4 linked regions of the Homo sapiens genome follow. The protein of the gene in region 2 purifies or fractionates together with the protein of the main gene of each other region. This does not show direct contact. Each region holds a gene or a part of one and is shown on either strand. Other genes may lie near its edges. The genes, in order: MYO10, ENAH, KIF2C and SEPTIN7.

Region 1 (5,927 bases), on a different chromosome or scaffold from region 2:
GCCTTCCAAGTAGTTGCGATTACAGGCCCATGTCACCACGCCCAGCTAATTTTTGGATTTTATTAGAGACAGGGTTTCACTATGTTGCCCAGGCTGGTCTCGAACTCCTGACCTCAGGTATCCACCTGCCTCGGCCTCCCAAAGTGCTGGGATTACAGGCATGAGCACATGGCCCTAAGTGCTTTAGTATGTAAACCTTCCTACTATCCTCATGAAGTTGGGACAACCAGCTTTAGAAACCACACTTTATGGGCCGGGCATGACGGCTCACACCTGTAATCCCAGCACTTTGGGAGGCTGTGACGGGTGGATCACAAGGTCTGGAAATCGAGACCATTCTGGCCAACAAGGTGAAACCCCATCTCTACTAAAAATATCAAAAATTAGCCGGGTGTGGTGGCAGGCGCCTGTAGTCCCAGCTACTTGGGAGGCTAAGGCAGGAGAATCGCTTGAACCTGGGAGGTGGAGGTTGCAGTGAGCCGAGATCACACCATTGCACTCCAGCCTGGGCGACAGAGCAAGACTCCATCTCAAAAAACAACAACAACAACAAAAACACACACACACATTTTTAGAAGGAAACAGAAGGCGCTTGGCTTTCCCAAAAAAAGCAAATCAAATAAAAATTAGTGGCATGTTTTTTTTTTGGTTTTTTTTTGAGACGGAGTCTTGCTCTGTCGCCCAGGCTGGAGTGCAGTGGCGCGATCTCAGCTCACTGCAAGCTCCGCCTCCTGGGTTCACGCCCTTCTCCTGCCTCAGCCTCCCGAGTAGCTGGGACTACAGGTGCCCGCCACCATGCCCGGCTCATTTTTTGTATTTTTAGTAGAGATGGGGGTTTCACCGTGTTAGCCAGGATGGTCTCCATCTCCTGACCTCGTGATCCGCCCACCTCGGCCTCCCAAAGTGCTGGGATTACAGGCATGAGCCACTGCACCCGGCCAAATCAGTGGCATGTTCAAAAGCTGATGAACATTTTCCTGCGGAGTTTTCAACATTTCTAGGGTGTGGACTACTTGTTTTCCTAAACTCCCATGCAGTTTTCCACTTGAAAATCATTTAATAACTGCCCACTTTTAGGGCATTTCATCAGAGAGCCTAGAGAAGATGACGCAAGTTTAAGGCAAAGGACATCAACAGGACAGAAAAGCATGGCAGTGAAGAACTCTCTGTGGCTCTGGACACAGCCTGTCTGGGTTCAAATCCTGGCTATCGTTTTCTAGCTGTGTGACACTGAGTCAGTTACTTAACCTCTCTGTGCCTCACTTTCTTCATCTATGGATTGGGTATAATTATAGAGCCTTTCCCATAGGGTTGTTCAAGGGATTAAATGAGTCACTAAATGTGAAGTGCCAGCAACATGCCTGGCACATGGTAAGTACAGTTGTCCCTATGTATCTATAGGGAACTGGTTCCAAGACCTTCCCCAGATACCAAAATCCATGGGGAAAAGTCTACATGTTCAGTACAGATGCAATTTTTTTCTTGAATATTTTCAATCAGAGGTTGGTTGAATCCAGAGATGCAGAACCCACAGATACTGAGTACAGGGCTGACTGTACTCAAGAAACACTAGCCATATTTATTATTGTCTTCAAAGAACTGTAAGATACTTCATAATCAAGGGAAAAAGTTAGAAGCATCTCCCCTTCCCGCCATAAAATAATCTGAAAATAACCATTATGCAAGGATTGAATCTCAACCATGAGGACATTTCAATGCCAAGGAAGTGATGAAACTTACTTACAAATAAGATATTTAACCTCGCAAGGCTGTTTACTCATTTGAAAAGGGGAGAGGGTTTGTAAAGCATGTAAAGCCTCTAGCTAACAGCAGTAAATCCCTCCTAACAAGACCAAGACAGAAAGAGAGCCAGGTTTAGAGGTAAGAGAATAGAGGTCACCGTGAACTAGACCTGTTAGAGACGGTTTCAAAAAGGAGCCAGACAGGTGGGACATTCGATAGACAGAGAGGCCTGCCTGCACAAAGGATGGAGTGGAACTGGGTAACAGATCCTCTGGTGTAGGATCACGTGCGAGAAAAGAATAAAGAGAGAGTTACAAGATCAGAAAACCTTGAAAACCAGACTGAGGAATGTGGACTTAATTTTATAAGCAATAAGAACATGCTTTAGACAGAGTTCTGGAAATACAAAATCTGCCAGAAATGTACAGGCTGAAAAAGAGAAAACAAATAAATGCAACGCACCACAGGAAGCTACCTCAGAACAAAAAGCTCTAAGGTCGAGATTTCCCTGCACCAGGAGTACTGACATTCCATTCACCAAGGGCCACTGGTTCTTAATTTCAAAGTACAGTTACTGTGACCAAGCCTTTGTTATTACTCACCTACTATGTGCCAAGGGCTCTGTAAGTCCTCTCTCAAATTCGGCTGATAACCATGCAAACTAGGAACTATTACGCCCATTTACAGACCAGAGAGCTCAAGTTCAGGATTTAGAGCATCTGGCTGAGATCCCATCGGAGGGAGCCAAGCGCTACTGCTAAGATAGGATGCTCTGCACTCAGCCTGGGGGCAGTTAGGCAAGGGGAAACGCTTAATCCAGACTTCACCGGAGGCTCATTCTTGAACGTCCCCTACTAGCTAGTGACATGAAAATGTTACGTAGCAGTTACTCTAAGTCCAAACTGTTGAAACTCATGAATAATAAGGTACTCCCGGCTGGGCATGGTGGCTCATGCCTGTAATCCCAGCACTTTGGGAAGCCAAGGCAGGCGGATCACCTGAGGTCGGGAGTTCGAGACCAGCCTGACCAACATGGAGAAACCCCATCTCTCCTAAAAATACAAAATTAGCTGGGTGTGGTGGTGCATGTTTGTAATCCCAGCTACTCGGGAGGCTGAGGCAGGAGAATCGCTTGAACCCGGGAGGCGGAGGTTGTGGTGAGCCGAGATCGCACCATTGCTCTCCAGCCTGGGCAACAAGAGCAAAATTCCATCTCAAAACAATAATAATAATAATAGTAATAATAATAAGATACTCCATGTCCTACCAATCACAACAGCAGGAGAGCACATTCAAGGTTTACATCCTCAAATGTGAGCCCACTTAAAGCCAGCTGAACTGGAAAAGCAAACACTCTGCTCTCTCCCTCCACCACTCTGGTTAAACAGTGAGGGACCTGCCCATGCCAGCTTGTTCCTGGTTTGTGCTTGATTTTGCAGGAACAGCCGGCCACATGATATGGAGTGAGGAAGCAGTCCTACCCTGCCCGCCCCAGCCAGACAGCTTATTGCTCCTGCTGCAACAACTGTCCCACTGCAGCTGCTCCCCCTGGCTTTGCTGTCCCCAACATAGCAGGGGGAAAAAAAAAATGAGTACTTGACAATAGAAATGTTTTCAAACTACAGAGAAGAGGCAACACGCTATATCTCCATTGTGAGAAAAGGGAAAGGGACCCAGCTAATCTCCTGATATGATTTTATAGTCATCAAAGGGGTTGCCTTCAGGAATTGGTGATACAAGAAGTCCTCAGCAGTTCCCCTTTACACATGGAGACATATCGAGGGTGAGGAGAGAAAGCTGCCAAAAATAACAATGTCCACATTTTTCTCTAACAAGAAAAGATGTCAATAGATCACAAACAAAAAAAATATACAACCAAATGGGGAGAAAATTGGCTTGGGAACTCTACTCACTTAAAAAGCTATTTGAACAACTCCAGATAACCAACCACAACCACAGTCCCTTGTCAAGTTAAGTAGAAGAGGTTGGTGTTTCCACTTAACGTCTTTAGAATGAAGTCTGCTCTAATCCAGAGTGAACCAGACTGGAAGAAACAGGTATGTCTGGAATATTTTCCACTAACAATTTATCCCTTAAACATTAATACCTGCTTTCTGTATTTGTATTTGTGAGTATCTTACTTGTGTACATTTTACATATTTATTCTGAAAATCAAGGTGTTTGATTAGTCTCACTAATAATCCTCCGAGATCTTGTATTTGAACAGACACATCACACCTCTGCCTAACAGGGAAACAGAAAGGTCAATTTCATTTGGTACTTACTGGCCCCTACTATATTCCAGGCACTGTACTTGGCCCTGAAGACATGAAAACAGTGTCCACTTCAGCACATCAACACAAGTTTGCACAGTAGCCTTGCCCCTTTCCTGGTTGAGCCTTTTCTGTTTGCTTTTTTTATTATTATTGCTTCTGGTTACAGACACATCTAAACTTAGTTTCTGGCTGAAGTAAACTTAACAACTTACTTAGAAATGCTGAAAAAACAAGCTTCCCCAAAGCATACACACAATTAACTCGAGGGGAGCCATAAAATTCTAATGAAGGCCATGAAGAAACTGAAACTGAGGAATGTGGCATGCTCAGTTTCTCTAATCCTGGAGAACATTTTGAAGTCAGCAGCTGTCAGCTGACTGGCACAAGCTTTGCAAGCTTCCCCCTGGCGCGCAGTAAGACACTATCTATCTAATTAATCAATCAATCTAGCAGGCAGTAAGAGTCTATCTATTTTGTGACACAGGGTCTGTTGCTCTGGAGCGCAGCGGTGCAATCATGGTTCACTGCAGCCTGGACCTCCTGGGCTCACCTCAGCCTCCAGAATGGCTGGAACTACAGGTGCATACCACCACACTCAGCTAAGTTTTGTAGAGATGAGGTTTCACCATGTTGCCCCGGCTGGTCTTGAACTCCTGGGCTCAAGCAGTCCTCCCACCTCAGCCTCCCAAAGTGCTGGGATTACAGGCTTGAGCCACCGCACCCGGCCAAATCCTATTTAAAACAGGGAAGCGCAGACAAGGCTGTGCCTGCAACACAAATAGGAATTAATACCGCCAAACAACTGCTTCACAGGTCTAGCTCAGTGGATCTCAACTGGGAGTGATTTTGCTCCCCTGTCATTCAGCAATGTCTGCAGACCTTTCGGGTTGTCACAACTTGGGGGATAGGGTTAACAATTACTGAGTAGAGTCCAGGGATGCGTTTAACCTCCTACAACACACAGGACGGCCTCCAACAACAAAGAATTACTCAGCAATGGTACCAGGTTTGAGAAACCCTGGTCTAGCTAGAAATAGCAGTTGCGAATCACAAGCAGCTCCCATTTCCTTATTATTTGGCCATTCATACACAAAGCTAAACAGGCAACATCTCATTCAGTAATTTTTCCCCAATTGTTAGCACTGGCTTTAAACTGTTGTCCAACAAGCAACAAGTCATTTACCCCTAAGCCACAATGGGAAAAGTTAGCAAAGACAGAATTCTACTTAGTGATAAGGAGGCCAAACAATTTAGCTGTCCTTGGGGAATATATCACTTCCACACTCGCTGTTTCTATTCTAACAGGACATTAATTACAGCATTTTCTTCACTGGACAATTTAACAAAAGGATGCTCCATTACAAGACATGAGAGAGAGAAAGGGGAGCTGGGATCTATGTTAAGAGTATGTCTACAATTAATACCTCACTATTTAACCTCTCTGACTGGCCCTGCTTCCTTCCCACTCAAAGTGATTAGATTTAAGGGTGGAACTTTCACGGCTGATTAGAAGTTAATATTGTAATACACATACATCACAAGATTAAAAGTATAACCTTAAAATAAGCGAAAAGTTCCCAGAAATACCAAAGTCACCAGCAGCAAAGGAAAAAGGCTCTGGATTCGTGAACAAGCTCTTCAAAGCTGGGCAAGGGACTTACTCATATCTTTGGGTTAAGATTCTGTCTACAAAATGAAGAGGAGAAAGTAGAAGATCACTAATGGCCAACTGCAAAATAATATTGATCACAGAAATAAAATCCAACAACCAGGCCCCTTACACTGAACTAAGGTATCCAGTGCAAGATGAAAAGAGTACTTTGAAAAGTCAAAGTCTCACCGGGTAACAGGAGATCAGGACGCTGTAGCGCGTTATCCTGATGTTCCCCCCACTTGCACTAGGGGGCA
Region 2 (5,927 bases):
CTCCATCTCAAAAATAAAAATAAGAACAAATACAAAAAAATTAGCCAGGCATGGTGACGCACACCTGTAATCCTAGCTACTCAGGAGACTGAAATGGGAGGACTGTTTGAACCCAGGAGGCAGAGGTTGCAGTGAGCCGAAATCGCATGACTGCACACACTCCAGCCTGGGTGAGAAAGAGTGAGACTCCATCTCAGGAAAAAAAAAAAAAAAAAGAAGATACATATAGTAAAGTTTACATTATGACCACCAATGAATCGCACCTCTTGATCTGTCCTTGTGTAATCACCTCCCCCACTGACTTTGGGCTTGACCATATGACTTGTTTTGGCCAAAGAAACATAAGCAAACAGGATGCAAGCTGAGGTCTGGTAAGAGCTTTCATACTAGGGCATGTTGTCATGAGGAGGCTGCTATTGTTAAGTGAGCGATGAGGCAGAGGGATGGGATAGACACACCAGATGAACCTAAGTGAAGGAAAACACACGAATGAGTCCAGGTAAGAAGAGCTGCCCAGCCAATCCGTAGCACATCTGCAGTCTCAGCTACTCAGGAAGCTGAGGTGGGAGGATCACTTGAGCCCAGGAGTTCGAGGTTGCAGTAAGCTATGATTGTACCACTGCACTCCAGCCCGGGTAACAGCTTTACTAGGCTTTGAGATGCTTTGTTAAACAGCAGTAATATCGGATACGATATATGTATATGCACTATGAAGAGTTAATATCCTCATTATTATAAATCATTAGAAGAAAAACTACACATCTCATTGGGAAAACAGAAAAAGCACATGAACAGACATCCACACAAAAATAAAGCTGTCCAATAAACAAACAAAGAGACCCTACAGGTAATCAAAGAAATACAAATTAAACCAATGAGGTAACACCTTTTACCTATCACATTGGCAAAGATTAAAAGACCGATAATGGCCTGAGCTGGCCAGAATGTGGGGTAACTAGAAATCTCATCTACTCTTGCTTATCTGGTAACGTGTATCAAAAACTGATACAACTCCCTTTAGTCATTTTGTTTATTATTCACTCAAATACTTATGCATACTCACAGAGGCCTGTGCTGGGAACTTGGAATGCAGAGCCAGGTCACGCAAGACCTTAATAATTTTGGTTTTATGACAAATTTGGGTTTTAGTCTAAGATGCCGCTGAAGGCTTTACATGGGAAATAACAATATCTGATTTCCACTTTAAGAGTATTCTGAGTGATGCATGAAGAACAGGGGACATGAATGGAAATGAGGAAACACTAATAGTTCAGGTAAGAGATAACAGTGGCCTGGACTTGAGGCAGTGAGATGGACAGAAGCAAGTGAAGGTGACCTGGTAGGACAATGATAGACTGGATACAGAAAGGTAAAGAAACAAAAAATAAAAAAAAAAACAAAACACAGCACTACTTCTTGATTTTACTTCTAGGAATGTATCCTAAAACAGTATCAGATATGTACACAAAGACATATAACCAAAGATGTTCACAGCAGTGTTTTTTATAATAACAAAAATAATGGAACAAATCTAAAAGTCCATCTTTAAGATTTAAGTAGACAAAGTCATCCATCCAAAGCAATGGAATATTATGCAGTCACTTAAAGTTATGTAGCTATATAGTTAGGAACAAGAATTACTGGCTGGACACAGCAGCTCATGCCTGTAATCCGAGTGCTTTGGGAGGCTGAAGTGGGAGGATGACTTGAGGCCAGGAGTTCAAGACCAGCCTGGGCAACATAGCGAGACCTTGTCTCTGCACAAAAATCTTAACAATTAGAGGGTGTGGTGGCGCACATCTGTAGTCTCAGCTACTCAGGAGGCTGAGATGGGAGGATCGCTTGAGCCCAGGAGTTCGAGGCTGCAGTAAGCTATGATTGCACCACTGCACTCCAGCCTGGGTGACAGTTTAAGACCCTATTTAAAAAATAAAAATAATAAAATGTAAAAAGTATAGATATTATATATATGGAAAGGGACAAGCTACAAAATACACAATACAAATATAGTATAATTCCATTTTTAAATAGTATAATCTTACTTTTATATATAATCATATGCACACGCACAATGATCTGCAATGCTGCAAATGCACTACAAAAAGTTTAGAAATCTACACATTAAAATATTAAAATACTAGATGGCTTGGATTTAACATTTCATAAATAAATGTTTTATACTTTCCATACCTTCTAAAATCTGTTCAAAATCTGTACTACTTTACAATGGAAGGAAAAAAGTAATTTAAAAAAATACTGACCAGACATATGGACAACAGTAATTGATTTATTTTTCTAAAAATAATTCTAAAAAAATTGTGCAAAGACCACAATTAAGTAGACTGTAAGTAAAAGTTTTAAATGAAAACTTAAGATACATAAATCTTAAATTGTTAAAAACTGAACGGTCACAATTTTGCTTGCAATATCAGTCTAACATGAGAATTTGGGGGAGGAGGAGAAAGACTGCAGAACAAAGCAGATATTCAAATAACCAGTATATAATAATTATTAAGACTGCATAAAAAGATCCCTTCACTGAACTGTAAAAGGAGCAATTTGGACTCCCTTGAGATTTGACCTCAAGAGCTATTCATTTTATTTTACTTAAGTTCTTGGTTCTTCATAAAGCTCCCCCGCTGCCAAGTTGCAAATGTAACAGATACCAAAAAGGACAGAAGACTGAGGACCTCTAAGGCACAGTTAAAGGTAGTCATTTTGATTTCACATCATCAGATGTATTCTTACCAAGACCAGATGTTCTATAAGGCCTTTACCACTGGAAAAGGGCTCAGTTTATTTAAAAATATCATGATTACCTCATTCCCCAAAGACAAAACTTTTGGTATTTGAGACTACTGTAAACAAACCCCAGAAAATCACCACCCAGATTTAAGTTTTCTGAAGATTCTGATGGATTTGCTTCATCACATTTTACTGGTGACTTTAGTCATCCTTACTTACAACAGGCCTACCAAAGAGATGGCTGGCTGTCTCCTTAGCACGAAGATACAGCTCCAAAATTTGTTCAGGCCTTTCAAAGCCACCACTACCAAGGTTTCCACCTCAGCATTCCCACGTGCTTGTTTCCCTACAGAGAAATGTCCAGTGGTTCTATCTTCAATCTCTCTTCTTTAAATAGCACGAAGATGTCAATTCAAAATATTAATCCAAAGTAATAAAAATGTCAGAAACAACTCACGTAAAAAGCAAATGAGATCTTCTGGTGTTATTATATAGATCTGTCTATTCTGGGCATTTCATATAAATGGAATCATGGCATATATCGCCTTTTGTGTCTGGCTTATTTCACTTAGCATAATGCTTCCATCTACGCTGTGGCATGTATCAGAATTCCATTCCTTTTGATGGCCAAATATTATTCTGTTGTATGGACATACCACATTTTGATGATCTATTCATGAAATCAGACACACCTGGGTTATTTCTGCTTTTTGGCTGTTATGAATAACGATACTATAGACATTTGTGTACAAGTTTTTCTGTGGACAAATGTTTTCATTTCTAGGAAAGGAATTGCTGGGTCATACGATAACTCTATGTTTAACTTTTGAGGAACTGCCAAACTGTTTTCTAAAGCAGCTGCACCATCTTACATGGTTTTTCACATTCTTAACATAAACTTAAGAGATGTCAGACTTTCATAAAAGTGGGGGATTTACTCTTATCAAGCTCATTTTGTGTGCCAAGTGTTATGCCAGAATTTTATTTAATTTTCTCAACAGCTCTATAATTCACAAAGTATATTCGATCCCAAAAAATGTTTATAACCCACTCAAAAATAAATTATTTAGTAAATGTCAAACTAGAGTCAAACCCAGAGTTAACTTCAAAGCCTGTCCTCTTTACCCTACACCATTCAATCTCTACACTTAGATATACATACATTGCCTCATACCCAAAGTAGTCTTTGGAAAAGTTGCCTGTTAATAAAACTTACTTTAATCATTGTAAAATAGAAGGTTCCCAGTGTAAAGAGATTTCTAGAAAATTTAACGGATATCTTGTATAAATCAATCAACCCCCCTAATTTATCTTCTTTAGTAAACAACTTCTGGTTACTTAAAACAAAACTTATCTAAAGTTCACCTAAATATTAAACAAATTATTTTCTTCCAAAGTTGTATGCACTGACAAAAAAAAAAAATGTAGTTATCTTCTGCTATAGACTGAACTGTGTTCCCCTAAAATTTATATGTTAATACCCTAACCCTCAATGTGACTCTATTTGGAAAAAGGGCTTTTAGGAGGTAACTAATGTTAAATTAAGTTATAAGCACAGGGCCCTAATTCAATAGGATTAATGGCCTTATGAAATGAGGAGGAGAGAGAAATCCCCCCTCATCTCCCCGACCCCAGGATTCCCATACCCACCCTACCATGTGAGGACACAGAGAGAAGGATATCTTCTGCAAGCCAGGAAGAGAACCCTCACCAAAACCCATCCATACTGGCAACCTGATCTCTGACTTCCAGCCTCCAGAACCTTAAAATAAATGTCTAGGCCGGGCGCTGTGGCTCCCACCTGTAATCCCACGAGGTCAGGAGATCAAGACCATCCTGGCTAACACAGTGAAACCCCATCTCAACTAAAAAATACAAAAAAATTAGCCAGGCGTGGTGGCAGGCGCCTGTGGTCCCACCTGCTCAGGAGGCTGAGGCAGGAGAATGGTGTGAACCCGGGAGGCAGAGCTTGCAGTAACCTGAGATCGAGCCGCTGCAATCCAGCCTGGGCGACACAGTGAGACTGTCTCAAAAAAATTAATAAATAAAAATAAAAAATAATTTTCTGTTGTTTAAGCCACCCAGTCTATGGTATTTTGTTATGGCAGCCCACACTAATACTTCAAGAGTATCATACACTACCCAGTGATTGGTATTTGAAGCACTGATAAGAATCAAAACAAAGCAGGGCTGGGGGCGGTGACTCACGCCTATAATCCCAGCACTTTGGGAGGCTGAGGTGGGCGCATCACGAGGTCAGGAGATCAAGACCATCCTGGCTAACATGTTGAAACCCCATCTCTACTAAAAATACAAAAAATTAGCTGGGCGTGGTGGCACGCGCCTGTAGTCTCAGCTACTCGGGAGGCTGAGGCTAGAGAATTGCTTGAACCCAGGAGGCGGAAGCTGCAGTGAGTGGAGATCATGCCACTGCACTCCAGCCTGGGCAAGAGTGAGACTCCATCTCAAAAAACAAAAACAAAAAAAGAATCAAAACAAAGCAAGCACTAAATGGGGTAAAAATAAATTAAACCAATAGAGATGCATATGCTTGTTACTTGAAAATATTTACAAGTTCTTTGGTCAAAGAGACTTAAAAACAGATTGATGGCCCTTTCAGTAATTCAGAATTTAATCATAAAGTCAAGTAAACATGGTATCCTCCAAAGGGCTTAGAATTTAGACAATCCTGACACTTGTAGCCACTTCCAAGCTCTGTGTTAGAATAAGAAATAAATTCTGGCCAGGTGAGTTCAAAACCTGCCTGGTCCACATAGCAAGACCACATCTCTACAAAATAAAAATTAAATTAAAATTTAAAAAAGAACAAAAGAAAACCAAATTCTACACCTATTCCTGGAGTCAGGATGTGAGTTTTTGCTTGCTTAATTAAATTATGTTATTAACATTTAGTATCCACCAAATACTACACTACACCCTACAATATCCAGTAGAGCTTCTAGAACACTACAGGTATTCCAAAAATGGGGTTGCTAGTGAACAGATTCTATAAAAGAGCAACGCAGTCAAAGTCAAACACTTACACAGGCCACCCACTATTTGCCAAGTATTTTGCTAGTACCATGAATATAAAAATGCTAGTATTTTGCTAGTACCATGAATATAAAAATCCTCTTCAAGGAACTTACAATGAAGAGGGACAAAAAGAACCACATAATTAT
Region 3 (5,927 bases), about 180 Mb from region 2:
CCAAATACATTTTTTCTTTTTTTTTTTTTTTGAGACAGAGTATCGCTCTGTCGCCCAGGCTGGAGGGCAGTGGTGCGATCTTGGTTCAATGCAACCTCTGCCTCCTGGGTCCAAGCAATTCTCCTGCCTCAGCCTCCTGAGTAGCTGGGACTACAGGCATGCGCCACCACGCCCAGCTAATTTTTGTATTTCCAGTAGAGACAGGGTTTCACCATGTTGGCCAGGATGGTCTCAAACTCCTGGCCTCAGGTGATCTCCCCACCTCGGCCTCCTAAAGTGCTGGGATTACAGGTGTGAGCCACTGTGCCTGGCCCCCCCGAGGCTGAGGCGGGAGAATTGCTGGAATCCAGGAGGCGGAGGTTGCATTGAGCTGAGATTGAGCCACTGCCCTCCAGCCTGGGCAACAGAGCAAGACTCTGTCTCAAAAAACAAAAAACAAACAAACAAACAAAAAAACAACATAGAAAAAATTAAATTTCTATAGACAGGGGTACCCCTAAATTCAAACTTTACCAACTTTAAGTTCCACTAAGTATGAATAGCTATAAAACAAATAGTTACTCCTTAATAATGGTTTACCATCTAGATGGATATGGGTTTCTGATTTCCAAGCCAATGGTAGACGTCAGTGATGAGAATGAGGTGAAGAGGAGGGCAGACAGGCAGGCAAACAGTCGGGTACTCCACAGCAGATCTAGGCCACTTGGCTCCCCTGCTGATCTGCTGGGCAGTGAGGTCCTGCTGGGCACAGCCCCCCAAGCACCTCTTGATGGCTGACACGGAGGAGGAAACAAGTTCTAACTGTCTGGTGAGAGTCAAATGGGGGCCCTTTAGGATCTTATGGGCAGGGGCAAGTTCCTGACAGCTGCTACCTAACCCTAAGACTACCTACATTTTCTTCTGGGCCCAGAAACTTCCCCAGTTACGGCTTCCTGCCCATGCCTTACCTATTTCCTGTTGATGCCTGCAATGAGGTCACAATTCTAAGTTTACATCATCAGAGTCCTGCAATTCTCCAGGAACAACTCAAACTTCACCAGGATAGCTTTACAACAGGTTCAGACATATTAAATTTGTCCCAACTTTGTATTTCAAAATGTGACAGAGCTGAAGCATGTACTCTAGGGTGAGGGCTTTACTGCCTAGAGATGAAACCTGCAGGACTGGGTGCGGTGGCTCACGCCTGTAACCCCAGCACTTTGGGAGGCCGAGGTGGGCGGATTACCTGACCTCAGGAGTTCAAGGCCAGCCTGGGCAACACGGTGAAACCCCTGTCTCTACTAAAATACAAAAAGTTGGCTGGGTGTGGCAGCGTGCACCTGTAATCCCAGCTACTCAGGAGCCTGAGGCAGGAGAATGGCGTGAACCCAGGAGGCGGAGCTTGCAGTGAGCCGAGATCCCGCCACTGCACTCCAGCCTGGGCGACACAGCGAGACTCCGTCTCAAAAAAAAAAGAAAAAGAAAAAAGAAATCTGCAGTTATTTGCTGCCTATTCAAACATTTGTTAGGCACCACGAAGACAGCAGCCTACAGGGGGAAGGTAGTCAAAGATGAATTAAGACATATATAGGCCGGGCGTGGTGGCTCACGTCTGTAATCCCAGCACTTTGGGAGGCTGAGACAGGCAGATCACCTGAGGTCGGGAGTTCAAGACCAGCCTGACCAACATGGAAAAACCCCGTCTCTACTAAAAATAAAAAATTAGCCAGGTGTGATGCATGCCTGTAATCTCAGCTACTCGGGAGGCTGAGGCAGAAGAATCGCTTGAACCCGGGAGGCGGAGGTTGCAGTAAGCCAAGATAGCGCCATCACACTCCAGCCTGGGCAACAAGAGCGAAACACTGTCTCAAAAAAAAAAAAAAAAAAAAAAAAAAGACATATACAACCCCTGCCACCATGAGCTCAATTTCTAATGGGGATTATAAGTCATATGTACAAAGGAAATCAAAGCAGAATGAGATTTAAATAAAAAAAAAAAAAGGAGGATAGAATCACTAAATGCAAAAGCTGGCAAGCACTTCAGTAATCACACTTCTATCCACACTTCTGGGACAGCCACAGACTCTTGGTACATACCTCCCCCATTTCTAACCCCTAAACTACAGAGAGCATAAACAACAAAGAAAACCAGAGGTTTTTTTTTTTTTTTGAGATGGAGTTTCACTCTTGGTGCCCAGGCTGGAGTGCAGTGGCATGATCTCGGCTCACTGGAACCTCCGCCTCCCAGGTTCAAGTGATTCTCCTGCCTCAGCCTCCTGAGTAGCTGAGATTACAGGCATGCGCCACCATGTCCAGCTAATTTTGTATTTTTAGTAGAGACAGGGTTTTACCACGTTGGCCAGGCTGGTCTTGAGCTCCTGACCTCAGGTGATCCGTCCACCTCAGCCTCCCAAAGTGCTGGGATTACAGGCATGAGCCACCACGCCCGGCCTTTTTTAGACGGAATCTCACTCTGTCGCCCAGGCTGCTGGAGTGCAATGGCGCGATCTCAGCTCGCTGCAACCTCCACCTCCCGGGTTCAAGCGATTCTTCCGCCTCAGCCTCCTGAGTAGCTGGGACTACAGGTGCGCACCACCACATCCGGCTAAGTTTTTGGATTTTTAGTAGAGATGCAGGTTCACTATATTGGCCAGGCTGGTCTTGAACTCCTGACCTCATGATCCGCCCGCTTCAGCTTCCCAGAGTGCTGGGATTACAAGTGTGAGCCACCACGACCCGCGAAAACCAGAGTTTTAAGCCTTGCTCTGACAATCAACTGATTCTCATGTTGATAATTCAGGGTGAACATCCCAGGAGAAAGGAATAAGAGTGTAAAGGCAGCAGGGAATTAGGCAGTCACAGAGCAGTAAACTGCCTCATTTGCCAGGGCATAGGATATGTGGAAGAAGAGTATGTGGTACAAAGAAAAAGGGTGATTAGAATCAGAGCTTGAGCCACATGTGGTGGCTCATGCCTGTAATCCCAGCACTTTAGGAGGCCAAGATGGCCAGATCACTTGAGGTCAGGAGTTTGAGACCAGCCTGGTCAACATGGGGAAACCCTGTCTCTACTAAAAATACAAAAATTAGCTGGGTGTGGTGGCAGGTGCCTGTAATCCCAGCTACTTGGGAGACTGAGTGAGGAGAATTGCTTGAACCTGGGGCATGGAGGTTGTAGTGAGCCGAAATCGGCTCACTGAGGGAGATCGTGCCACTGCACTCCAGCCTGGCGATAGAGTGAGACTTTGTCTCAAAAAACAAACAAACAAACAAAAAAAAAAACCAGAGCTTGAAAAGGCTCTGAATGCCCCACTAAGAAGTTCGGATCTTATTCCAAAAGCAGTATTTGATCTGAGGTAAAACAAGGGATATATTTCTAAACAAGCAACAAAAACAAATCACAAAAGACTGATAATAGCTGGTTGAAAGGAATTTTAGGAACCTCTTAATTCTTTAGGGGCAGATAATGGAAAGTATTCAATCCTTTTATTTCTCAAATATACCACCTAAATATCTCTACTATACGTACTATGCTAAGCAAGCTTTTTACATGTTTTATCTTTTTTATTTATTTGTTTTTGAGACAGGGTCTCACTCTGTCACCCAGGCTGGAGTGTAGTGGCTCACTGTAGCCCTGAACTCCTGGGCTCAAGCAATCCTCCTGCCTTAGCCTCTGGAGTAGCTGGGACCACAGGCGCAAGCCACTATGACTGGCTAATTGTTTTTTATTTTTAGTAGAGATGAGGTCTTGCTGTATTTGCCCAGGATGGACTCAAACTCCTGGCCTCAAGAGGTCCTCCTGCCTCAGCCTCCCAAAGTGCTGAGATTACAGGTACTGTGCCCAGCTACATGTATTATTTTATTAAGCTCCATGGAAGAGAGTCCAAGAGTCTGTCTCCTTCACCTCTGTATCCCTAGCACCCAATAAGTGTCTAGCATTTTGGAAGCAGTCCAAAAAATGTGCTGAGTAAATCCTCACAACAACCCTGTGAGGTAGACATTATTATCATCCTCACTTTATAGATGAGGAAACTAAACTTCGAAGAGGGGCAGAAACATGCCTGAGAACACAAAGCAGTGGCAGAGCCAGACTAGAATCCAGGTTTTCATACTCCTAGCCCAGTGACCTTTTCACTACACCACAATGCCACTAGAACAGAAATGTCTTAGTCACAGTGCTCTCCTCAAAATCCTTCCAAGGTTCCCCACTGCCTACAGAAGAAAACCTAACCAGCTCAGTGCCAGACATGAAGACCTTTGTCTCCTTTTTCAGCTGTTTTGCGGCTGCCAAGCATCCTGGGCCCTGCACTGCTCGTGGCCAGCTTCTTCATGGTCCCCATGTGTGCCATCTTGCTGCTTCAGCTAAGCCTTCACACTCCACCCTCTAAGCCCAGCCCATTCTCAGCAAGTTTCCACCTCTGAGCTGCTCTAGCAATGCTCATCTGTGCCATTCATCACAAGTTGTCTTCTGTTAGTTGGTTAGTTGGTGATTCAGAAACGTCTTTTTGTCTCCTCAACCAGGTTATTGATTTCATTCACCAAACTGATATCACAGGTAGTGTGCATGCAGAACCTAGCTTGGGCAAGCAAAGTTTTCTAAAACCTAAAATTCTGTGCAGTTTGTTTTTTTTTTTTTTTTTTTGAGACGAAGTTTCACTCTGTTGCCCAGGCTGGAGTGCAGTGGCATGATCTCAGCTCACTGCAACCTCTGCCTCCCAGGTTCATGTGATCCTCCTGCCCCAGCTTCCCAAGTAGCTGGGATTACAGGCCCGTGCCACCACACCCAGCTAATTTTTGTATTTTTAGTAGAGATGGGGGTTTCGCTATGTTGGCCAGGCTGGTCTCAAACTCCTGATCTCAAGTGATCCGCCCACCTCGGCCTCCCAAAGTGCTGGGATTACAGGCATGAGCCACTGCGCCTGGCTGCAGTTTGCTTTCTACAAACATACCAGAGCCGGGCATGGTGGCTCACGCCTGTAATCCCAGCACTTTGGGAGGCAGAGGCAGGCGGATCACGAGGTCAGGAGATCGAGACCATCCCGGCTAACACAGTGAAACCCCATCTCTACTAAAAATACAAAAAATTAGCCGGGCGTAGTGGCGGGCACCTGTAGTACCAGTTACTCGGGAGGCTGAGGCAGGAGAATGACGTGAACCCGGGAGGCGGAGCTTGCAGTGAGCTGAGATCTCGCCACTGCACTCCAGCCTGGGTGACAGAGTGAGACTCTGTCTCAAAACAAACAAACAAACAAACAAAAAAAACCCAGAAAATTATTGATTGCTTCAATTTAGAATGGACCTGACTAAATAAAATCCCAATGCATCTGGAAGGGGACCATTCTTTTTTTTTTTTTTTTTTTTTTTGAGACAAGTCCTCATTCTGTTGCCCAGGAGGCTGGAGAGCAGTGGTGCAATTTCAGCTCACTGAAACCTGTGCTTTCCCAGACTCCAGCAATTCTCCAGCCTCAGCCTCCAGAGCAGCTGGGACCACAGGCATGCACCACCATGCCCGGCTAATGTTTTTTGTATTTTTTGTAGAAATGAGGTTTTGTCATGTTGCCCAGCCTGGTCTTGAACTGCTGAGCTCAAAGCGATCTGCCCACCTCGGCCTCCCAAAGTGCTGGGATTATACATGTGAGCCACTGTGCCCAGCCAAGAAGACCATTTTTATTTTTTGAGGAAAGGTCTCACTCTGTCGCCCAGGCCAGAGTGCAGTGGCTCGATCATGGTTCAGTGCAGCCTCAACCTCCCAGGCTAAATCAATCCTCCCACCTCAGCTTCCCGAGTAGCTGGAACCACAGGCGTGAGCCACCACACCCTGATAATTTTTAATTTTTTTGTAGAGACAAGGTCTCAACATTTTTCCCAGGCTGGTCTCGAACTCCTGAGCTCAAGCAATCCTCCAGACCAGGCCTCTCAAAGTGTCGGGATTAGAGGCAAGAGCCACCG
Region 4 (5,927 bases), on a different chromosome or scaffold from region 2:
GTGTACTCTATTATTGCCTTATTGTAGTTTAATCCTCAGAAATAGATATGTAAACCTAACAAATGAACTCTCCAGAAACAACTTTGAAATTCTGAAAGGGGAAATCTTATTATTGGTAAAAAATATATTTATTCTATAATACATTTAAAAAATTCAGTGGTGTGAGTGAAGGGAGAATCACTTTAGAAAAAATCTTAAGGTAACCAAAATGAAAAAGGGAGCCAAGAACTTTCAGGTTCTTTACTTTTATTTTTAAAGAATGTATCACAAATAGGAATATTACTTGGGAGTAGAGGGGTAAACTACAAAAGAGAGATGCAAATCAATTTCTCCGGTGCGTATTTTTAAGGGGTAAGTTCTAAAGCCCCAGCTCAGCAAGTAAAAGTTGCCTGGGCATGATAGAGAGAGCTGGGAACAAGGTACACAGGTCACTGATGGGAAAATTGCCAATAAGGACAGTTACCTGAAACAATATCCTAAAAATTAAAGAATTGTTCAAAATAAACCAGGGGCAGTGGTGTGTGCTTATAGTGACGTGATGTGGGAGGAGCATGATGTGGGAGGATCACTTTGAGCTCAGGATTCTGAGGCCAGTTGGGCAACATAGCAAGACCTTGTCTCTTAAAAAAAAAAACGAAGTTCAAAAATAATAGCAACAAACAGATAAAACAATCAAATCTCAATTTTGGTTTCAGCTTACTATAATACAGAAGATTAAGTATCAGATTAAACCAATACAATAAACCTATTGCCAAGAGGAAGTACTTCTGAGGCTTGGTGTTATAACTAAGATTTTATTGGTATTTAAAACTCCTTACTTAACCCTTAATAATTTAAGATAGCAGGTTAAAAAAGAAAACAAAAAACTCCTTACAAAACTAGTAAAGAGGATCTCTTATTAACGAAATTTTTTTACTCTAAATATGAGATATCAAAAAGGGCAACTTTTGCACTGAGGAAAGAAGACTGTGGATGTTTTAACTGGGCTTACAAATTTCTTCAATCATTCTTGAGGGTCCATGACCATCTGACGTTCCGATAAAAGTGACTGGCCTTCTCTCCAAATGTTTGATTCCAGGTGGTTCATTAGATTCCCTGGGAGCAAACTTTGGGCCCCAGGTAAAGAACCCCTCAATTTTAGTTATGTTTTCAAATATGAAAACAGAAATAGACTTAATGATGAGGCAGGATGCCAGCCAGGGTGGGGCAAGTTGAGTATCTCTTATTTGAAATGCTTGGGACCAGAAGTGTTTTGAATTTTTTTGGAATTTTGGAATATCTGTGCTATACTTACTGGTCGAGCATCCTTAATCCAAAAATCCAAAATTCAGAATGCTCCAGTGAGCGCTTCCTTTGAGCAGCATGTCAGTGCTCAAAACGTTTTATTTTGGAGCAATTCACATTTTGAATTTTCTCTTTAAGAATGTTCAACCTATACTACAACTTTAGGACTTAACACACACTTGCCTGACTTGGTAGGATACAGGTTTGAAAAATACCAATGTACTTAAAGAGAAAATTGAGACTACAAGAACCTGAAATCAGTATTATCCTTGAAAATCTAGACTATATCAATACAGTGTGCATACTGTACTACTTACTATAAATACAAATTTTTAATCAGTTTTGAGATATTTTAGAAAGTCATTCACTGAAGAAAATCTTACCTTCAGCAACACCCCAAGGATACTGCCTTCCTCTGACCCTTTTGCCATTAACTTCAATGATAGTATTACTACCTACCACAGCAAGAGGTAAACGGTCCTATAAAACAAAGTATTCTTGTTCAAATACATCTCTGTAGTCCTCACAAATTCAAAAATAAAAAAAGTTACATTACTCAACAGGTTAGCCAAAAAAAAAAAAAATTTACTTTCGATAGTTTCTGCATTAGTTTTTATAGGCCATTTAACAAATATTTAGTAAACTGCCATCACATGGTATTGCCACCAAGGTAAACAATAAATAAAATTAAATTTTCTCTTTAATGTTAAGAATATTCAAGCATATACTGGTCAAATTATTTACTAAAAATCACTACAGAAAGTTGTCCCATACCTGGGGGGGGATAAAAGGTAAAAACTATATTGGCATTTGGGGGAAAAAAAGCGGGGGGCTAATGACTAGCTTGCCTACTTGATCACAAACCAACTATAACAGTACCTAAACCAGGTAATAGTATATTTGTTAAGCTCTAACTTTGGAAATTCAAATCCTGGTGACTGGATTTGTGTTCATCCATGTTCAGCCCTTCACAATTCTGTGGCTCCCAGAAATACCTAAGCAGCTATTTACAACTGCAGAAATTCTTCACAGGCAATGTATAAGAATTTCATTATTCCAAGATATTTGCCTACATAATGCCATTATTCAGTATACCATTTTTAGGGCCAAAGTACATAGAAAACCATGATAAAATACAGAAAATATGTTGATGTGAATTTTTGGTTGGTTTTTATTGTTTTTAATTGAAACATAATTGTACACATTTGTGGGGTACAGTATGGTATTCTGATAACTTTATACAAATATGTAATGATTGAATTAGGGTAATTAGCATATTTATCAATTCAAACTTATTTTTCTGTATTGGGAACATTCATAATCCTCTTCTAGCTATCTGAAAATATAGACTAAATTACTGTTAACTACAGCCACCCTACAATGCTACAGAACGCTAGAACTTACTCCTCCTATCTAGCTGTAATTTTGGTTGGCTTTTATAGAGACAAAATAAATACATTTTTGTCTGGCAATTAAAACATAACAGAACGAATTCTCTCCTTTCTCATCACTTGTTTTTTAAGAGAAAAAAATTACATAATATGAAAGCCAGTTAATTAAAAACACTTTGAAATAAGAATTGTGTTATTCACCTCAGTAGTTTATACAATTCCTTATTATATATACTAGCTAATCTTCAAAGTTAACTATAAAGTTGAATTCAACATTAAATCTCCCTAGGTATTTTGTAAGCCAACTACTTAAAACACTGATACTTTTGATCTTTCCTGTGGACGCTGTAGTATGTTTTTAAGGCCTCAGATTACTTTAGCGTGTGTACAGGGATGAACCTACCTTTATCTTTTTAACAAGTTTATTTTCTTCTTCATCATCTGTTTCTGGAAATTCGTATATTTTAATTTTATGTTCTTGGATTTCTTTCATTATCTAAAATGGAAGAAGTAGTCAGCAAAAGAGCACCATACATAATTAGTATATTAGTCTTATGTTCATTACATGCCTCTTCGATTCCTATATGGGTCCTTGGTTCCAGATCCTTTACTGTTTTTTAATGATGCAAAGTTGTAATCTAAAATTAAAGTACTACGCTAGTCTTTTTTTTTTTTTTAACTATGAAGTTGATATATAAACACCAAATCCAATTACTTCCGAAGTGTTAAAGTCATATAGCTGTCATACCAAAAGAGTTCCAAAAAGGATGTAAAACTCCAGAAAGGGATTTCTCTGATTGATTTCCACAATAATGACTTTAGGTCATTTATTTACAATGACTGAGATTCTTCCTTTAGATATAAATTCCCAAGTATCTTATTTAGTTGAATAAACAGGGCTAAACTCACGTAAAATTTTTAGTAGAATCTGGCAAAAGTAAGGTAAAACTAAGTACAGCACTGCTCCCTGAACATTCATCAGAAAAATCCTTACATGTACATGTGCATACACACAAATTGAGGAGCAACAGGTGTAAGATTAGGGAAGGACACAGGGAGAAAACACATCCTAGAAATTAAGAAGCTCAAGAATTAATAAGGAGAATGCAGAAACCTAGAGAAGACAACTTATTATTAACATCAGAAATGACCTAGTTCAAATTAAATTATCATGTTCAAAATCACTCCAATTCTAAACAGAATACAGACATCCAAATAATTTTCAACTACCTATCCTTATTTGAACCCATAACAAACCAATGGCTAATATACCTAAACCTAGCTTCCCTGTCTATACTTATATTTTGGTGCAACTTTCTTGGCAAAGGTTCCCAGCAGCTATAAAAGGACCCTGAACAAATTGTGTTACATGGTTACTATAGTAGACAGAAGTAAACAGAAGTAAAATTGTCACTGAAAAAAAATAGGACCACACTTCTTTTACAATTAGGGTACGTACCTATATTTAAAAAAAAAAAAAGAATAAACAAGGAATTGACAAATACATGATGACGAGAAAAATGAGTAATAGTAGCTAGCTCTAAAAGCAATGGTTTTAGTCAGAGGTTGTATATTAAAATGACCTGAGTACAACCACCAGGATGTGACCAATTTGAAAGAAGAGGTCACTTCATATTCATCTTTTTTACCTTTATCAGTAAAAATCCAAATCGAAACACATAATAAACAAAAAGAAATGTATTATATGATAGTGTTTGAAACTTAGAAATAGCACATTACAAAACAAAAATGGGAATGGGTAAGTGTAAAACACAAAAATACTAGATACAGTAAAAACAATGTACTAAAACTTTCTGAAAATTAGTATGAATTTAGCACAACTTCAAAGCAAATTTTAACAGGCTTTTTATAACAGGTTTCAAGGTATTCTGAAATTCATATTGAAAAAGGTGAAAAACAAAGTATTTTGTTACAATAGGACTATATGGACAATAGAGATAATTACAATCTACTTTTAAATATTATATAAAGCTGCTGTGGTTTAAACAATATACTACTGGCCTTTGGACTACTGGAATAGAGAAAGGTTCCAGAATTGACCTTACATTTCATAAAATGTAATATATAACGAACCAAACACAATTAAATTAGAAATATGTGTGACTGTGTAACTCAATATTATTGAGACAACTAGACGTGAGTCTAGAAAAACAGTTTAGTGGCCTTCCAGCTAGCTCAGTCATACAGCATGAGACTCTTAATCTTAGGGTCATAGGTTTGAACAATAACTTAAACTATAAATATCCCGTAAAGTGCACTGAAAACAAAATTAGTGCACTGAAAACAAAAATAAGCAGCAAAAGAGAAAACAGAAAAAATATTGTGAAAATGAGAGAGAACTAAATATCCAGAATAAAAAGAACCCATATCAATAAATACGGGTAATACCAAGTACTACTGGTCAAAAAGACAAAGGATTTGAGCAGATGTTTACAAAAAGGGGGAAAAAAATGACTTTGTTTTTAAAATGTTCAGCCTTTCGGGAAAATAAAAGGAAAAGACAAAGAAATGATTGGTTACCACTTCATTCCAAAAAAGTTTTCAAAATAAAAATAACAATGCTGGCAAAGTCACAGTGAAACAGATGTACAAATTTGTTTTATTGGGAAAGCACCATGACAAAATGGGGAGTGGGGAGATAAAGACCCATAAAAACAATCATAGCCTTTGAAAGAATAATCCACTTCCTGGGAATTCATTCTAAGAAAATAATTCAAAAAAAAAAAAAAAAAAAAGAAAAGAAAAAAAAAGAAAAGAAAAGAGAAAAGAAAAAAGAAAATAATTCTAAAGAGTATGGGGAGAAATTGTCTGTGTGGGGGTGTTATTACAGAACACTTAAAACAGCCATATTTAAAAACTGACAAAGGCAGAAGATTGAAGAGTTATTTCTAATACAGTATAAATGACAATATAGTAAAGCAGTAAGAGGAATGGATTGCAACACATTATACTAAAAATAGTAAAAACTGCAAATTATGAGAACGGTATAAGAAACCTGGGTTAACACATCCTGCTCACCTGTTTTTTAAACTGTTGGCATTCCTCTGGTGTGAGTGTGTCTGCTTTGGCAATAAGTGGGATGATATTCACTTTTTCATGCAAACGCTTCATAAACTCAATATCCAATGGTTTAAGTCTGAAATACACAGTATTTAATTTGACTGAATTGATCAGTTTGGGAGAACAAGATTCTTCACATCCCCAATGCTAGTTAAATACAATGTAACTACT

Evidence for each region.
Region 1: the proteins of ENAH (region 2) and MYO10 purify together in Homo sapiens (co-immunoprecipitation; one study listed by IntAct). This does not show direct contact.
Region 3: the proteins of ENAH (region 2) and KIF2C purify together in Homo sapiens (co-immunoprecipitation; one large-scale study listed by IntAct). This does not show direct contact.
Region 4: the proteins of ENAH (region 2) and SEPTIN7 fractionate together in Homo sapiens (co-fractionation; one large-scale study listed by BioGRID). This does not show direct contact.

Annotation. Positions count from the first base shown.
Region 1 is NC_000005.10:16,928,313-16,934,239, forward strand, and holds part of MYO10 (unconventional myosin-X), read right to left. Parts: intron 1-5,927. UniProt on the Homo sapiens protein: Myosins are actin-based motor molecules with ATPase activity. Unconventional myosins serve in intracellular movements. MYO10 binds to actin filaments and actin bundles and functions as a plus end-directed motor.
Region 2 is NC_000001.11:225,642,012-225,647,938, forward strand, and holds part of ENAH (protein enabled homolog), read right to left. Parts: intron 1-5,927. UniProt on the Homo sapiens protein: Ena/VASP proteins are actin-associated proteins involved in a range of processes dependent on cytoskeleton remodeling and cell polarity such as axon guidance and lamellipodial and filopodial dynamics in migrating cells.
Region 3 is NC_000001.11:44,741,412-44,747,338, reverse strand, and holds part of KIF2C (kinesin-like protein KIF2C), read right to left. Parts: intron 946-5,927; exon of another isoform or gene 583-945; coding exon of another isoform or gene 580-582; intron 1-579. UniProt on the Homo sapiens protein: In complex with KIF18B, constitutes the major microtubule plus-end depolymerizing activity in mitotic cells. Regulates the turnover of microtubules at the kinetochore and functions in chromosome segregation during mitosis.
Region 4 is NC_000007.14:35,879,728-35,885,654, reverse strand, and holds part of SEPTIN7 (septin-7), read right to left. Parts: intron 5,833-5,927; coding exon 5,715-5,832; intron 3,172-5,714; coding exon 3,079-3,171; intron 1,765-3,078; coding exon 1,668-1,764; intron 1-1,667.